4 linked regions of the Homo sapiens genome follow. The protein of the gene in region 3 purifies or fractionates together with the protein of the main gene of each other region. This does not show direct contact. Each region holds a gene or a part of one and is shown on either strand. Other genes may lie near its edges.

The links. The genes of interacting proteins can lie anywhere in the genome.
Region 1: the proteins of MAP4K3 (region 3) and ZNF423 purify together in Homo sapiens (affinity purification with mass spectrometry; one large-scale study listed by BioGRID and IntAct). This does not show direct contact.
Region 2: the proteins of MAP4K3 (region 3) and SH3GL3 purify together in Homo sapiens (affinity purification with mass spectrometry, with the first as the bait; one study listed by BioGRID). This does not show direct contact.
Region 4: the proteins of MAP4K3 (region 3) and DBNL purify together in Homo sapiens (affinity purification with mass spectrometry, with the first as the bait; one study listed by BioGRID). This does not show direct contact.

What each region holds. Positions count from the first base shown.
Region 1 is NC_000016.10:49,492,613-49,496,112, reverse strand, and holds part of ZNF423 (zinc finger protein 423), read left to right. Parts: intron 1-3,500. UniProt on the Homo sapiens protein: Transcription factor that can both act as an activator or a repressor depending on the context. Plays a central role in BMP signaling and olfactory neurogenesis. Associates with SMADs in response to BMP2 leading to activate transcription of BMP target genes.
Region 2 is NC_000015.10:83,611,341-83,614,840, forward strand, and holds part of SH3GL3 (endophilin-A3), read left to right. Parts: intron 1-73; exon of another isoform or gene 74-77; coding exon of another isoform or gene 78-247; intron 248-3,500. UniProt on the Homo sapiens protein: Implicated in endocytosis. May recruit other proteins to membranes with high curvature.
Region 3 is NC_000002.12:39,248,766-39,252,285, forward strand, and holds the end of MAP4K3 (mitogen-activated protein kinase kinase kinase kinase 3), read right to left. Parts: intron 3,121-3,520; coding exon 3,065-3,120; exon of another isoform or gene 3,060-3,064; intron 1,941-3,059; coding exon 1,853-1,940; 3' UTR 501-1,852; downstream 1-500. UniProt on the Homo sapiens protein: Serine/threonine kinase that plays a role in the response to environmental stress. Appears to act upstream of the JUN N-terminal pathway.
Region 4 is NC_000007.14:44,054,702-44,058,201, forward strand, and holds part of DBNL (drebrin-like protein), read left to right. Parts: intron 1-2,055; coding exon 2,056-2,202; intron 2,203-3,080; coding exon 3,081-3,158; intron 3,159-3,427; coding exon 3,428-3,500. UniProt on the Homo sapiens protein: Adapter protein that binds F-actin and DNM1, and thereby plays a role in receptor-mediated endocytosis.

The DNA.
Region 1 (3,500 bases), on a different chromosome or scaffold from region 3:
CCAGGGCAGTGGCTAGCACCAATGGAGCACTTGCCAAGGACAAGGCAAGGTGCTAGGACTTTACAGACACTGTCCTCAGAGTAGCTGAGAGCCAGGAGAGGCAGCTAGCAGGGTGTGTGGAGAAGCTCTTTTGCTTTATGCTGCTGGCATGCTTAAGCCCCTCACGTCTCTCCCACTTGACATGGTGATGGATAGGTATCAAAGGGAGACCAGGCAGGGTCCCACGCCTAAGCAACAGAGAATGGAGCCAAGATCTTGAGAAGCAATCCTGGGCTTCACACTAGGGAGAGGCACACAGTGTTCCTGTTTGTGACTGTGTTGGGCATGGAGGTGGGCTGAGCCAGGGCCCCCTCCTGGGGCGCGCAAAACCAGCATCAGACCCCAGCTGAACCTCCAAGGAGCCCATTCCCTCTAGTGTGTGGCGGTGCTTTGGGAAGGACAGTGTAGCCACCAGGCTCTGTACTCTGGCCCGCTCCTTCCATGCACAAAACATTACCCTGGATTGGGTTCAGGATCAGGATCATTTTGCTGCTGAATTCCCAGCAACAAGCATAGTGGCTCATTGGCTCAAAGACGAATGAATGAATGAGCAACCATGAAATGAATGCTGGGCTTCTTTCCTTCCAGAGGCTGAGGGTGTGTCAGGGAACCAGTTCCTGAGTGCTCTGCTGACGATTTGCACAGAGAGGGCTCTTTTTGTGGGTCTCACCAGGACCCAGGGTAGGCCTGCCCCCAGCATAGGCAGCACACAGGTTTCTGTGCCCGGGCCCATGCCATCCCCTTGGCTATCACTGTCTTGTGTCCCTGGCCCCGTGTGCCAGGCAGAGGCCCCCAAAACAGGCTGTACCAGAAACCTCCATCCAGGAGAGCACACGAGCTCTGCTGAGTGGATGGATTGAGGCTGCAAACCATTGCTGCCCACCCCCTCCTGCTCTCCCGTTTTATTTTCCTCACCTGCTTCTCTGGCCCACACCTGTGTCTCCCTGGCAGGCAGCGAGGCCGAGTGGATGCCAGGCCTCCCTCTAGGCATTTTCCAGTCCTTCCCTGGGCCCCTGTCTCCACCCCCAGCCTTTATGGTGGTGGGAAGTGTTCATCTGTGGGGTGGGTAGCATCTTTAAAAAACGATTTTCTTCCTTCTCTAAAGGGGCTAAATATAGCACAGGCATAAACAGAGAAAGAGACATTAAGGCTGAATGCCCTTGTGAGAACTATGCTGGATGGAAAGAACTCTTTAAGAAGGTTTGCTGAACCTCCCCACGTTCCTCAAACCACAGCTTCTAGCTGTGGGGGACGGACCACGGGTTCTTTCACGGTTATTGAACTGTGCTGATTGCAGTAGCTGTCCAGAGCTGCTCTGTGTCCTGGTGTTGGGCGACTGGTAAGTCTTGGGGACAGGGGTCCCACCACCTCCTCTGCCTGTTGAGATACTGCCCTTGGCCTATGGAGGAGCCAATGCCCTCCTTGGCTGAGCACCTGGGCACCTCTGGGCTCCCCACCACCATCACACAAACTGATCGGGTGACCTTGACCAGTTTCCCTAGCTGAGCTGCCAGCTGCACCATTAATCCCACAAATGTTTGGGTGTCTGTGTCTAGCCCCTCTAAATCAGGCCCCTCGAGGGGTAGGCCCAGCTGGTGTCTTCCCCTCCCCCTCACTGTGCCAGTGCAGAGCAGAGCATCCAGCAGGTGCTTAATAATGTAGTGCTGAGTGAATTCTGGTGCCTGGTCCCCTTGGGGCATCAAGTTTTGACATTTCCATCTGCTGTGACATCCTGGGCTTTTGTTCCTGTCACAAAACTTCAGGGAAGGAAGTTTTATCCTTCTGTCTCAGAACCCTCTAGGAGGAAGTTCTTTCTTGAGTGTAACCTCAGAGCCCCCTGCTACTGCTATTTAAGTGGGCAGGCACACTGTGGCTTTTCCTGGGGAATGGCATAGGCATTCTGGAGTTTTCCTCACCAGTGGTCCCAGGTGTGGGTTCCAGCCTTCATCATGTCTGCACCAGCAGTGCCCTGGTGAGCCAGTGTGGGCCATGTGTGTCACACTGAGCCTGTTCTTGGCATCCTGGCAACAGGCTGCTTCATTCTCCAGAGATCCCAGACACCCCCTGTGCCCATGTTGGTAGTGGGTGGTCCTTGGGGATTTTGTGGAGATCGAATATCATGTCTGGTTTTCTGTGGCCTGTGGAACAAAGTCCATGTTTGTTGGTACTCAAGGCCTCCACTGTCCGTAGGCCATGTGCCCACCAGCCTTCCTGTGACTTCTGTGCTGGGACCTGTGCCTGCATCGCCACTTGGATTCTAGGCTCCACACCTCCGTCTCTGCTATTCTTTCCTCTTGGAATGCCCTCTCCCCTTTCCACATATCCACATCCTATCCATACATTCATTCGTTTTCTTTCCATTGACTCATTCACAAATACTGCCTGAGTGTCTACTTTGTGCCAGGCCCTAGGAACCATAATTTGAGGACAAGAAAGAGCTGTCCATGTCTCCCTTCCTCATGTCCCCTCTCTTCCTCCTCCCTGTCCTCCCCCTAATAAAGAATGACCCACCCACACCAAGATAGCAGGGGTTTTTGACTGGCGGTTGGCAGGGTGTGAAAGTGCAGACCTCCAAGTTGCTCCTGGGCAGCTGTGCCTGCTGGGGATTGGAGGCCCAGGCGTATGGTCAGGACAGTGCATGCCCAGCCCTGGGTCCTGAGAAAGGAGGTGCCGCCACCCTGTGTGCAGCTCAGCAAAGGAGGTCAGTCTAGCTCATGAGAGGTGCGTGGCTGTGTGGGAGGTGGGCTGCAGGTGCCTGGAGAGGTCTGCAGGGATGGGAAGTGATCCATGTGCCTAGAGGACTCAAAGAGCAGCTTGGTTGGGAGGGAGGAGAAGGGAGGCGGGAACTGAGTCAGCAGAGGCTTGAAGGTAGCAGGAGGATGGCTGTGTAGAGTGTGGATTCGGCTCCCCACAGGACTAGCTGGCTGTCCCTGCACAAGTACAGGGAGAGGTGCCACGGCTGGAGGGTGCGGGTTCCCATGGAAACCGCCTGCATCCCATCTGTGGCCTCAGACAACCTGCCTGGTGCCTCTGGGTCCCTGACGCCCCCGACCGAGGTGTCAGGCCCGGCCGGCAGAGGTGGCACTGTGTCTGGTGCAGAATGCGGGTGATTTGCAGACTGCGGTGCCCATGGGGTGCAGGCCCTGGGAAGCCTGGCTCCCCTGAAAATCCCCTTGCTCTAGTGGATTCCAGCCATCTGGTTCAGTGCCCGGTGCTTCCAACCTGGGTGACCTTGGGCCTGTAATTTTTGCCTTCCTAGGCCTCGGTGTCTTCATCTTAAGAAGTCCCACCTCGCAAGGCTGTTGTGAGGATTGAAAGAGCGGTGCCTGCCACGGCACAGAGCACGCATGCCCACCAAGCCCCGGCCGTGCGCCTGCTCCGCCCGCATGAGCACGAGGCTGTCGCTTGGCGCTGTGGGCATCTGCTGGGAGGCAGGCGCGGGCTGCCTCTTCCCGGCCGGG
Region 2 (3,500 bases), on a different chromosome or scaffold from region 3:
AAATAATCTTTGTTTCAATACTTTAACAAGGAAGACTGTGTTTTCCCACCTCTGCTCTCACGTTTCGTTGAAGCCAGGTCTCAGGAGTAAGAGAAAATCAACACAAGGCCACTTGGGGAGGGCAGTGCTGGCTGAAGCCGTCTCACTGGACAGCCCAGGGTCAGGGGTTTCAGCCGCCTGTTCAAGGACACCGAGATCCACAGCAGCCACCTGGGAGCTCCTACACAACTATGCCCAGCGATTCCAGGTGCCAGCTACTGAATGTGAGAGAGCAAGGAGGTGGAGGTGGATGAGGAACTGCCAGCTGCAGGACCACAGGGGCAAGGGGAAGGGGTTGTCAACAGGGATGGGACGCTGGGTAGGATCAGTCTTTTCTTACGAGACGTTTTCAGCTGAGGTGCTGGCTTCTGATGGTGGGAAACCAAGCATTCAGGTCCCTTGGAGAGGCTTATATCTAACAGTTGGAAAGCCTCCATTGAGGAAATCCAGCCCATTCTGCCTGGACTTTGGGGCTCCATCCATGGTGACTTTTGTGTCAAGGGAAAATTCACACACTGTCCCTCAGGCGGGCAGCAACTTAATTTCTCTTTAGCTGAACTGAACTTGCTTGCAAGCCTCTATGTAGACCAATGGCGGAAACAACTTAATCTTTTTTCCATTTCTGTTGTTGACCAAAAAAAAAAAAAAGCTTTAAAATCTTTTTTCCATTTCTTCTAATGGTGGAAAAAAGCATAATCTTGCCATTTCAAGGTAGCTCAGTCTCTTCCAATAGAAAGCATAGACTATCCGTTTATGACTTAGGCGATTCCAGATTTAAACACAGTCAATTCAGAGTAGAAATTCCCTATCAGGGCTGTTGGTTTTTCTTGAAGGTTCTCTCCTCCCCCTGGTCCAGTCCTAAGATGTTGCCTAGATGTGAGGGGGGTTTACAGAACATCATGGTGGCAGGTAGGGAGGCTCACTTCCACAGCTGAGGTGACTCGTCACAGGAGGCCTGGGGCCTGGGCCAGGATCTGTGCTGACATCTGTGGCTTAGGCCTCCCTCTCTGGGTTGCTGAATCTCTGTATTTGGAGCCGTGTGTCACTGCCCCCAGGCAGCCTCTGGCCTCAGTGGCCCCTCAGCACTTCCTGCTGGGGACTTGAGGGAATTTGTTCACAGTTCACAGGGAGCGACCAGCCTTCAGGCCCCATCTGTACTTAGTGACACCACATGGTTTCCACTGGGCTCCAGCCCCCGTGTTAGTCCAGAGAACTTTGACAGCTGCCTTCTCCCGGGATTTCTGTGGAAAGTGGAGTCTAAGACCCCCTTCCCCAGGGTGGCATCCAAGGAGCATTTCAATTTTCTTGCTCACCCTCTTCTCACTGCAGGCCCCTTCCCTGCTTCCCTGCCTCCAGAAAGAGCTTGTATCTCTTCTCTGGATGGCAGGAAACAGCTCCTCCCTCTCCATGGCTTGTAATCAAAATGCTAGGCTCTGAGTTCTTCAAGCTCTAGTTCTTGGAACCCAGAAGTTTCTCTCTCTCTCTCGCTCTTAAATCTTATAAAAGCCTACCTGGCTCTAGCATGAAAGCCTAAAAGCCTTGGCTTTCACAATGTTTCACAACTGAAATGGTATTATTTGGGAATTTAAAAGCTAAACATTGACTGCTTTGTTCATGTCTGGGTTCCACCCTCCTCCTCAAGTAAGGGAGGCAAGCCCCAGCTCCTTGGGTTGAGGGCCCCAGGCAACAGAAATGACCCAGAATGAAAAATGCATTGATACTTCAGAATATCGTCCGGCTGCATGTATAATTCAGGGCAGCCAGTCTGAGCTCTGGTTGGGGTGGATTTACCAACTGCCTACTTAGCAAGTGCCAATTGCTCTTAGTGTTGTAGCCAGCCCAGTGGTGGCTGGAGGGCCAGGTGCACTTGTACTGCCTGAGTCAGGGAGTTCTTGAACAGGGTCTTTCTACTCAGTGGTCTCTGGAGAGATGCCCTGCCTTGGGTTTAGGTGCTGATGGAGTGTGATATGAGTGCTGGTCTCTTTCCAGCTCTCAGAATATCAAAGTGGGCAATGTGGCAGTGGTTCCTTGCCAAGAATGAATGACATGAGAAGTGAGTAATGCAGCTTTTCCATGATTTGTTCTGTGTGTGTGTGCAGCAAGAACCCAGGTTTACACATGGAGGTGGTGGCCTGGTTTACACATGGAGGTGGTGCATACACTTGGACAAATGTATGCTTGCCACTAAGCATTTTGGTCATTGCAGGTGGCTTATAGAGTAAATGGGAGGGAAATATATAAATCTATCTATCTATCTATCTATCTATCTATCTATCTATCTATCTATCTATCTATCATTAGCCCTGTAATCAGTGTGTCAGCCTATGAAATGTCTTGGCAACCCTTAGTGGTGTCATAGATCATGTACGAGGTGACATGGAGCAAGGTAGCTGATGGCCTAGGGTCTGGAGCCCTCCTGTTTCTGGCTCAGCCAGTAGCCCTGGGGCCAGGCCATTATGACCTCTCAGAGGCATTGATGGCTTCTCTTGGAAAAGGAGAGGACTCATGGAGGACTGCCAAATTCCATTCTAGCATTAACATTCTGTGTTCAAGGAAATGCTTCCCGAGACTACCATGTGGTTTGGCACCTGACCCCTTCTCTGTTAAAAACTAGTCTAGTAGTGGGAGAAATGCTAAAAGAATAATAATTATTTTTATAATCCACATTAAAACAGTTATACATTAATAAAGTAGACTTTGACTCACAGCTCAGGTTGCCCTTGGTTTTCAGTGCTCAGCCCCCACCTGCCCACCCATATACACACTCCATGACCCAAGGAAAATGAAAAGTTCTGTATTGTAAGCCCTCTATTCCCCATGCTTTGTTTGAAATCATTGAATGTTGTTCTGTTCAAATTCAAAATAGTGAACTAATCCCCAATATTTACAGCCTTCCACCCCCTAGCTTTCATCATTATGACAAGAGGAATACACAGACTTAGGCAGGGGTGGGGTCTGTCACGGAAGGAGCTGTCTAGAGGCTAGAAACATCATGTAGATCATAGAGGTTATATTGCAGGTGGGTTCAGAGTTTCAAAGTCACGACCCAGTACAGGAGCTGCCTCCCTGAAGAGGAAGAAGAGCTCCCCTACCATTACCCCCTTCTCTTTCCTCGCCAGCTGAGTCTCTTTAACCTTTAACGCTTCCTTAGGGGAAGGAGAGGGGAGGATCATTTCACTGGTGGTTGTCAACCTACCCTGGACATAGGAAGGACCTGAGAAACAAAAAATACTGATGCCGGGTTCACCCTGGGCAGTGGGCTGTTTAGTGTGCCACCAAGTTGAGAACCACTGCCATAGGAAGGCAACAGGAAGCCACCTTGGTACAACCTGGGGAGCTCCGCTGATGAAGGCTCCTTAGAGTGCCCTGTTCCTTAGAGATATAGGCGCTACTCCATGAATTTCAAGCTGTCTAAACAACTATAATATAATCCTTCTCACAACAGGAATCTCCATTGCCCC
Region 3 (3,520 bases):
CATTTCCCAATGCTTCCTTACTTTCTCTAACCCAGGCACTAGCACATTTTTTCTGTAAAGGGTCAGCAAAGTAAGAATTTTAGGCTTTTCAGACCATATAGTGTTTCAGAAGCCACTCAACTCAAATATTGTAGCACCAAAGCAGCATAGACAGCATGTGAGTGAATACGTGGTGTTGTGCTCCATTAAAACTTTATTTACAAGAACAGGCAGTAGGCTGGATTGGTCTGAGGACTGTAGTTTGTGGACCCCTGCCTCTAACCAGAAAACTATGAATGTTTGACTTTTCTTATCAGGAAGTCGAAGTTTCTGCAAAAGATGCCCTTTTCTCCTGTGTGGAAATATTAATGCTTCATGAAACTGAAACCCCATATCAAATAAAAATCATGATTTGAGGGACCAAAATTCAATACTTAAGAATTTAACTACAAAACAAATAAAGCTTTCCCCTCTTAATATATTTTAGTGTTACTATATACAGATTAAACCAGATGACAAGCTACTATACAACAGCATGTTAAAAAACATGTTTATTTTACAATATGTACAATCAGGAACATATTTTAAAACCATTATCATTAAAATAAATGAAGATCATAAATCACAATTTAGTTTGTTCTTAGTGTATATACTCACATTAAAATATAAAGAACATATACCAAAAAGAGCCAAAAGTGTGCATTTTGCTAAAACCTGGTATATACATATTCCATTGGAAAAAAGCAATCAAAAATGACTTAAACCAAAACTAAGTTCCTGTGATGTGTAGTAACCATTATATTGTTTGTATGAGGTAGTAACTAAATTATTTTGGCCATGTATTAATACTCTAAGTCAAAAGAAATATGAAAAGGATCATAAAATAAGGCCAACAAAAGTAAAAATTCCAAGAGAAATTTGAACCACTTCACTCTATGGAATGTTACAGTTCTTCAGTGTGATCATATGAAATGTTTAGTGAGGACTCTTTAATAATGCTAATTAATTCTTTGTGCATACTGTAATTCTGACCACAATTGCAGTATTCTATCATGGTACCGCTATTCTGTGATTCAAAAATGTTCAAAGGTATTGTTTTTAAGCAAAGACAAGCAATCTTACAGGATTCTGCTTAAATATAAAAAGACCAGTTACTACAACATGTGGTTAATTATAATTGGTTTGCTTCACATAGAAAACAATCCAAATACATTTGTGGAGCCAAATGCTTATAGACAATGTCACAGCTTACTTTTGTGACTTAATACATCACATATCAATACTTTGTGCAAATATAAACACCAGTGTACTTGCATTAAAATTAAAAAGATTATAAAATGATTACAGCCTCCATTACAATTTTAAAAGTTACAAGATTTATATTCATATTACTAAATTACATATAATAAAAATACAATAGTGTTAAATGTATTGTTTCATTGCCAGCATCCCATTTTGTAATATAGCCACACCCAAGAATATACTAAAGAATTCTTAAAATATTAACCCCAATTGCATTTTCATCAACATTTACATCTGTACAGATAAGACACTTACTTGTACATCTCATAAAAGTACATTATCTACATAAATTCTTAGTGTATGTCTTCAGCAATATGAAGTTTCACAGAAAAAATACTGCCTATATGTACAAAGATTACATAACAATGAATTAAGCACTTGTGTGGTTCAATATGCTAAATATATCCATACCACTTAAAACAAAATTTTCCCCATCTTATCTCATGCCACAATAAATTACAAAGTAACTGAAGACAGGTTACTGCAGCTTTTGTACAGCTTCAAGCATCCATTAATGTTGCAGTGGTAGTGTTCTTTCTTTCTAGAGTTAACTGTCAAAGCACAACAATTCTCAGTAACTGTTTTCATGACCCGCCAGGATGTACAAATTGCTATTTGCTGTGGGGTTATCAGTTGGCCTACTTTCCAAAACCACGACCCTGAAAGTAATAAAAAACATATAACAAAACAAAGTTATTCCTGAAAATTAATGTTAGCTCCCAAATTTTCCATTGCTTCTCCAATATGTGCCTCTATAAATGCTGCTCATTTGATCGTGGGCAGAAATCATTTGCTATCACTGTGATTACAGGGCCAGTTCTAGCTCTGGGAAGTAATTTTGCTGTCCACTACCTCCCACCTCTAGGCCAGTGTTCTTCTAAGAGTCAGAAGTGGGGAGAAACCTATATTAGAAATTATTTGGGGGAACTTAATTCTTATTACAAGTTCTAAAAACGATTTGCAGTTCAAGAACCAGAAGCTAAATTGCCAGGGTCTGACCCAGAGACCCACGCTGCACAATGGATGAATAACGTACCCAGACACTGGTATTCAGTGAAAGACTGGCTAGGGGGCCAGGGCGCTCACAGAAAGAGTTGTAGTGGCCGTGTGCCCTGACTAGCTGTCCCTGCAGGCATTTATTCAGCACAGATTTAATGACAAAGGCTTTGAGTCAACCTACTTGTGGGTAATTTATCAGGTTGCCCTCCCCAGGAAAGAGCAGTCCTGCCCGCATGATCAAAGGTTGGTTTTAGGACAACATGAGTAAACAAGCTATTTAGATAAACTCCTCTACATTCCTATGTATCTATGCCCTAAGCTTTTAAGAGAATTCAGCTGCCTTCAGCCAAATCTTTTACTGAAGCTATGCAAACCTTCTGGCCTTCCAAGAAGGTTTGTGTCTATTTCCTATAACTTTATAATCTCTCCCACCACCCTGACCAATGTCTTACAGTCAATCAGAACAGGTCTCCAAAATCCTATCGGCATTAACAACACAAAGTTCTGTTCATTAACATATGGTATTTCCTCTTTCTTCTGCTGCAAATCAGATGTCAGTATGTTTAATGGAAACTAGTACTGACAGATCCATACATTCCTGTTACTTGGAAGATCAGGTACATTTTCAAAGGCTAACTTTCTGACCTGTGAATTCTTATAGTGTGAAAAATTCAATGTTGAACATATTGCAGACATTTCAATTCTCTTGAAAAAGAAATCTGTTTCATGCTGGATCTATAAAACACGTTTAGTACTGTGTATTTAATACAGTCCGTTTTCATACCTGTCAGATCCAAGCAGCCTGAAAATTCTTGTGCTATCTGAAATTTCTTGTGTTACCTGTTCAATTAAAACACAAATTTAATTTCTGAAATTAAAGACACAAAATTTTTAATGGGCACTTCATTATAATTCAACAGAAAAGAAACATGATCGCTAAAAATGAAAACATATTCCTGCATGACTGTTTGTTAAAGTCAGCATGTAGATACATCAATTTGTTAGTCGAGGGGAAATGTGGTTAATTTTGAGTTAATCATAAAATGCAGGCAAAGGAAAATGATTTCCTTGTTAAATCATAAGACTTCAAGGGAAAAACTTAAAAGCAAAGCACTAAATCCATTTTATTTATTAGAAACTTTCATCATTTATGTTAACGCTAATGGCAAGGTTACTGGCAGCAGTAAGCTACTTAGATCTGCTTCTTTTACTTAAAAAGGCTGCCACGTAGTGTAACAGG
Region 4 (3,500 bases), on a different chromosome or scaffold from region 3:
CCTTCTGTACTATTGAATACTAGAATTTATTCCTTCTATTTAACTGTACTTTTGTACCTGTTAAGCAACTTCTCTTCATTTTCTCTCCCCCATGCCCTTCCCAACCCCTGGTAACCAGCATTCTACTCTCTCCCTCCATGATACCCACTTTTTTAGCTCCCACATGAGTGAGAACATGCAATACTTGTCTTCTGTGCCTGGCTTATTTCCCTTAACATCATGACCTCCAGTTCCATCCATGTTGCTGCAAATGACAGGATGCCATTCTGTTTTATGGCTGAATAATATTCCCTCATGTTTATATACTAAATTTTCTTTACCCTTTCATCCATTGATGGACGTTTTGGTTGATTCCGTATCTTGGCTATTGTTAATAGCGCTGAACTTCAGAGTTGGATATATCCCCAGCAGCTGGATTGCTAGATCATATGGTAGTTCTGCTTTTAGTAGGACTAAAATACTGTTTTAAAAACCATACTGTTGTCTAGGCGCGATGGCTCACGCCTGTAATCCCAGCAGTTTGGGAGGCCAAGGTGAACAGATTACCTGAGGTCAGGAGTTCAAGACCAGCCTGGCCAACATGGTGAAACCCCGTCTCTACTAAAAAAATACAACAATTAGCCAGGTGTGGTGGCGGGCACCTGTAATCCCAGCTACTCAGGAAGCTGAGGCAGAGAATCTCTTGAACCTGGGAGGTGGAGGTTGCAGTGAGCCGAGATTGTCCACTGCACTCCAGCCTGGGCAACAGAGTAAGACTCTGTCTCAGAAAAAAACCCAAAAAACCATACTGTTTTTATAATGGCTGTACTACTTTACATTCCTACCAACAGTGTATAAGAATTTCCCTTTCTCCACATCCTTGCTAGCATTTATTTTTTATGTTTTTTATAATAGCCATTCTAACTGTGGTGAGATGATAGCCCGTTATGGTTTTGGTTTGCATTTCCCTGATGATGGTTAGTGATGTTGAGCATTTTTTTGTATGTAGTTAGCCATGCGTATATCATCTTTCGAGAAATATCTGTTAAGGTCTTTTGCCCATTTTAAAATCAGATTATTATTTTTTTGCTACTGAGTTGTTTGAGTTCCTTATATATTCTGGTCACTAATTCCTTGTCAGATGGATAGTTTGAAGATATTTTCTCCCATTCTGTAGGTTGTCTGTTTACTTTGTTGATTGTTTCATTTGCTGTGCAGAAGCCTTTTAGCTTGATGTAGTCCAATTGGTTGATTTTTGCTTTTGTTGCCTGGGCTTTTGAGGTCTTAACCCAAAAAAAATCTTTGCCCAGATCAATGTCCAGGGGCATCTACCCAGTGTTTTCTTTGAGTAGTTTCATAGTTTCAGGTCTTACATTTAAGTCTTTTTAACCCATTTTGAGTTTTTTTTTAATATGGTAAAAGATGAAGATTTAGTTTCATTCTTCTGCATATGGATATCCAATTTTCCTAGCCCTGTTTATGAAGGAGACCGTCCTTTCCCCAGTGTATGTTCCTGTCACCTTTGTTAAAAATGAGTTGGCTGTGTGTGTGAGTGCTCTGTTAGTTTCCATTGTTGTGTCTGTGTTTATGCCTGTACCATGCTGTTTTGCTTACTGTAGTTTTGTAGTTTAATTTGAAATCAGGTAGCATGAAGCCTCCAGCTTTGTACTTTTTGCTTCAGATTGCTTTAGCTATTCAGGGTCTTTTGTGGCTTCCAGATGGCATTTAAAATTAGTTTTCATTGATTAGAAGGAAGGCCTTTGATGCAAATTATGCCTGGGCTGTCTATTGATACACAGCAGGGAACAGCTACAGAAGGAACCACTGGATAGCACAGTGGAGGTCAAGGGTCTCACGTGAACTGGGACAAGAATGAGGGGTTTGCTCCAAGTTGGTTTGTTTGAGCCCTTGAGGGGAACTCGTGCCTCAGTTTTCAGCAGCCAGACAGGTGCCTTCTAGTTTCCTGATTCCAGTCCTGTGTGGTATAGTAGTGGCCCGTGCTGTATGGACTGACAGGAGTTTGGCCCATCTCCTGGGCTTGCAAAGCCCTTCTTTCAAGTGCTGCTCCTGCTGCAGGGGGCCCATGTGACCATCAACGCACGGGCCGAGGAGGATGTGGAGCCTGAGTGCATCATGGAGAAGGTGGCCAAGGCTTCAGGTGCCAACTACAGCTTTCACAAGGAGAGTGGCCGCTTCCAGGACGTGGGACCCCAGGCCCCAGTGGTGAGTGCTGCTTGCCCATCGCCAGCCCTTTTGTTGCTCAGGGCCTGAGGCAGGGGGCCAGGAATATGCACTTCCCAGCACCCGGGCTGGCTGGGCCCATGCCTGCTTAGTTTCTGCAGATGGTAACCCCTGAGCTGTGGTGATTGCCCACTGACCAGATGAGCAGGAATAGCCCTCTGACCTTGCCTAGGGGTTGGACTAGCTGTTCTGGAGCCTTCCTCTGGAGCCCAGCCTGTGTGGTCAGAGTGGAGGCTCTGCAGCATGCATGGCTATGATAGTCTGGCTGCCCTCAAGGTCATGGCACTGGAACATCTTGGGCTGCCCCTGGAGGTAGCCACCGTGGAGGAACTAAAGGAGGCATCAAGGCGGAGCCTGAAACCAGAGCAGGCCCCTTGGAGTCACGGGAGATACCTGTGGGCCTGTGGCCCCAGTGCTGTGTGGAGCTGATGGCTGGGAGCTGCGTCCGCATGCGTGTGGTTGGACGTGATTCCTTGGATGCTCTTGTGGTAGTCAGCTGTCTGAGTGCCCCTGGTCAGAGGCCTGCCTCAGAACTGCCCAATGTCTAGGAGTCTGCAGGTGGGGTATGGGGGCCTTTCTTGCCCTGGCCCCCATCCATGAGGGCGAGAGACCACCAGAGACCCCTCTAGTGTTGTCTGGGATTGAGCATCCCCCTTGGGGCAGTGTCCTGGGCTTCTTTCAGGTCATCTTGGTGTGTGTCTCCTTGAGGGTCACTGGGCAGTGCTCTGCTGCCTCTGCTGGGTCCAGTCCTAGCAGCACTCACCTGTGCTGTCGCAAGTTTAGCGTATTCTCTCCTTTGGTGCCTGTGGGCCTGGCCTTCCACCTGGGTCCAGGTCTCTAATGAGTGCTGTCCCCTACAGGGCTCTGTGTACCAGAAGACCAATGCCGTGTCTGAGATTAAAAGGGTTGGTAAAGACAGCTTCTGGGCCAAAGCAGAGGTGAGTGCTGCCCCGGGGCATGCTGGGCACGTGGGAGTGTTCTGCTTGCTGTGGCTCATCTTTCCTCACAAGTGAGCTCATGCAGCATCCACTCTCCTTGGTGCCCATTACAGATGGTCACACTGAGGCTCGGGTAAGTTAAGCCACAAGGCTAATGATCGACTGGCTCTGGTGCCCGTCTTTGGCCATGTGCCTAAAACTCAGTCCTGGGCAGGGGATTAGGCTGAAGTGGCAGCATAGGGCTGAGCGGGCAGTGGCTCTCCCTGCAGAAGGAGGAGGAGAACCGTCGGCTGGAGGAAAAGCGGCGGGCCGAGGAGGCACAGCGGCAGCTGGAGCAGGAGC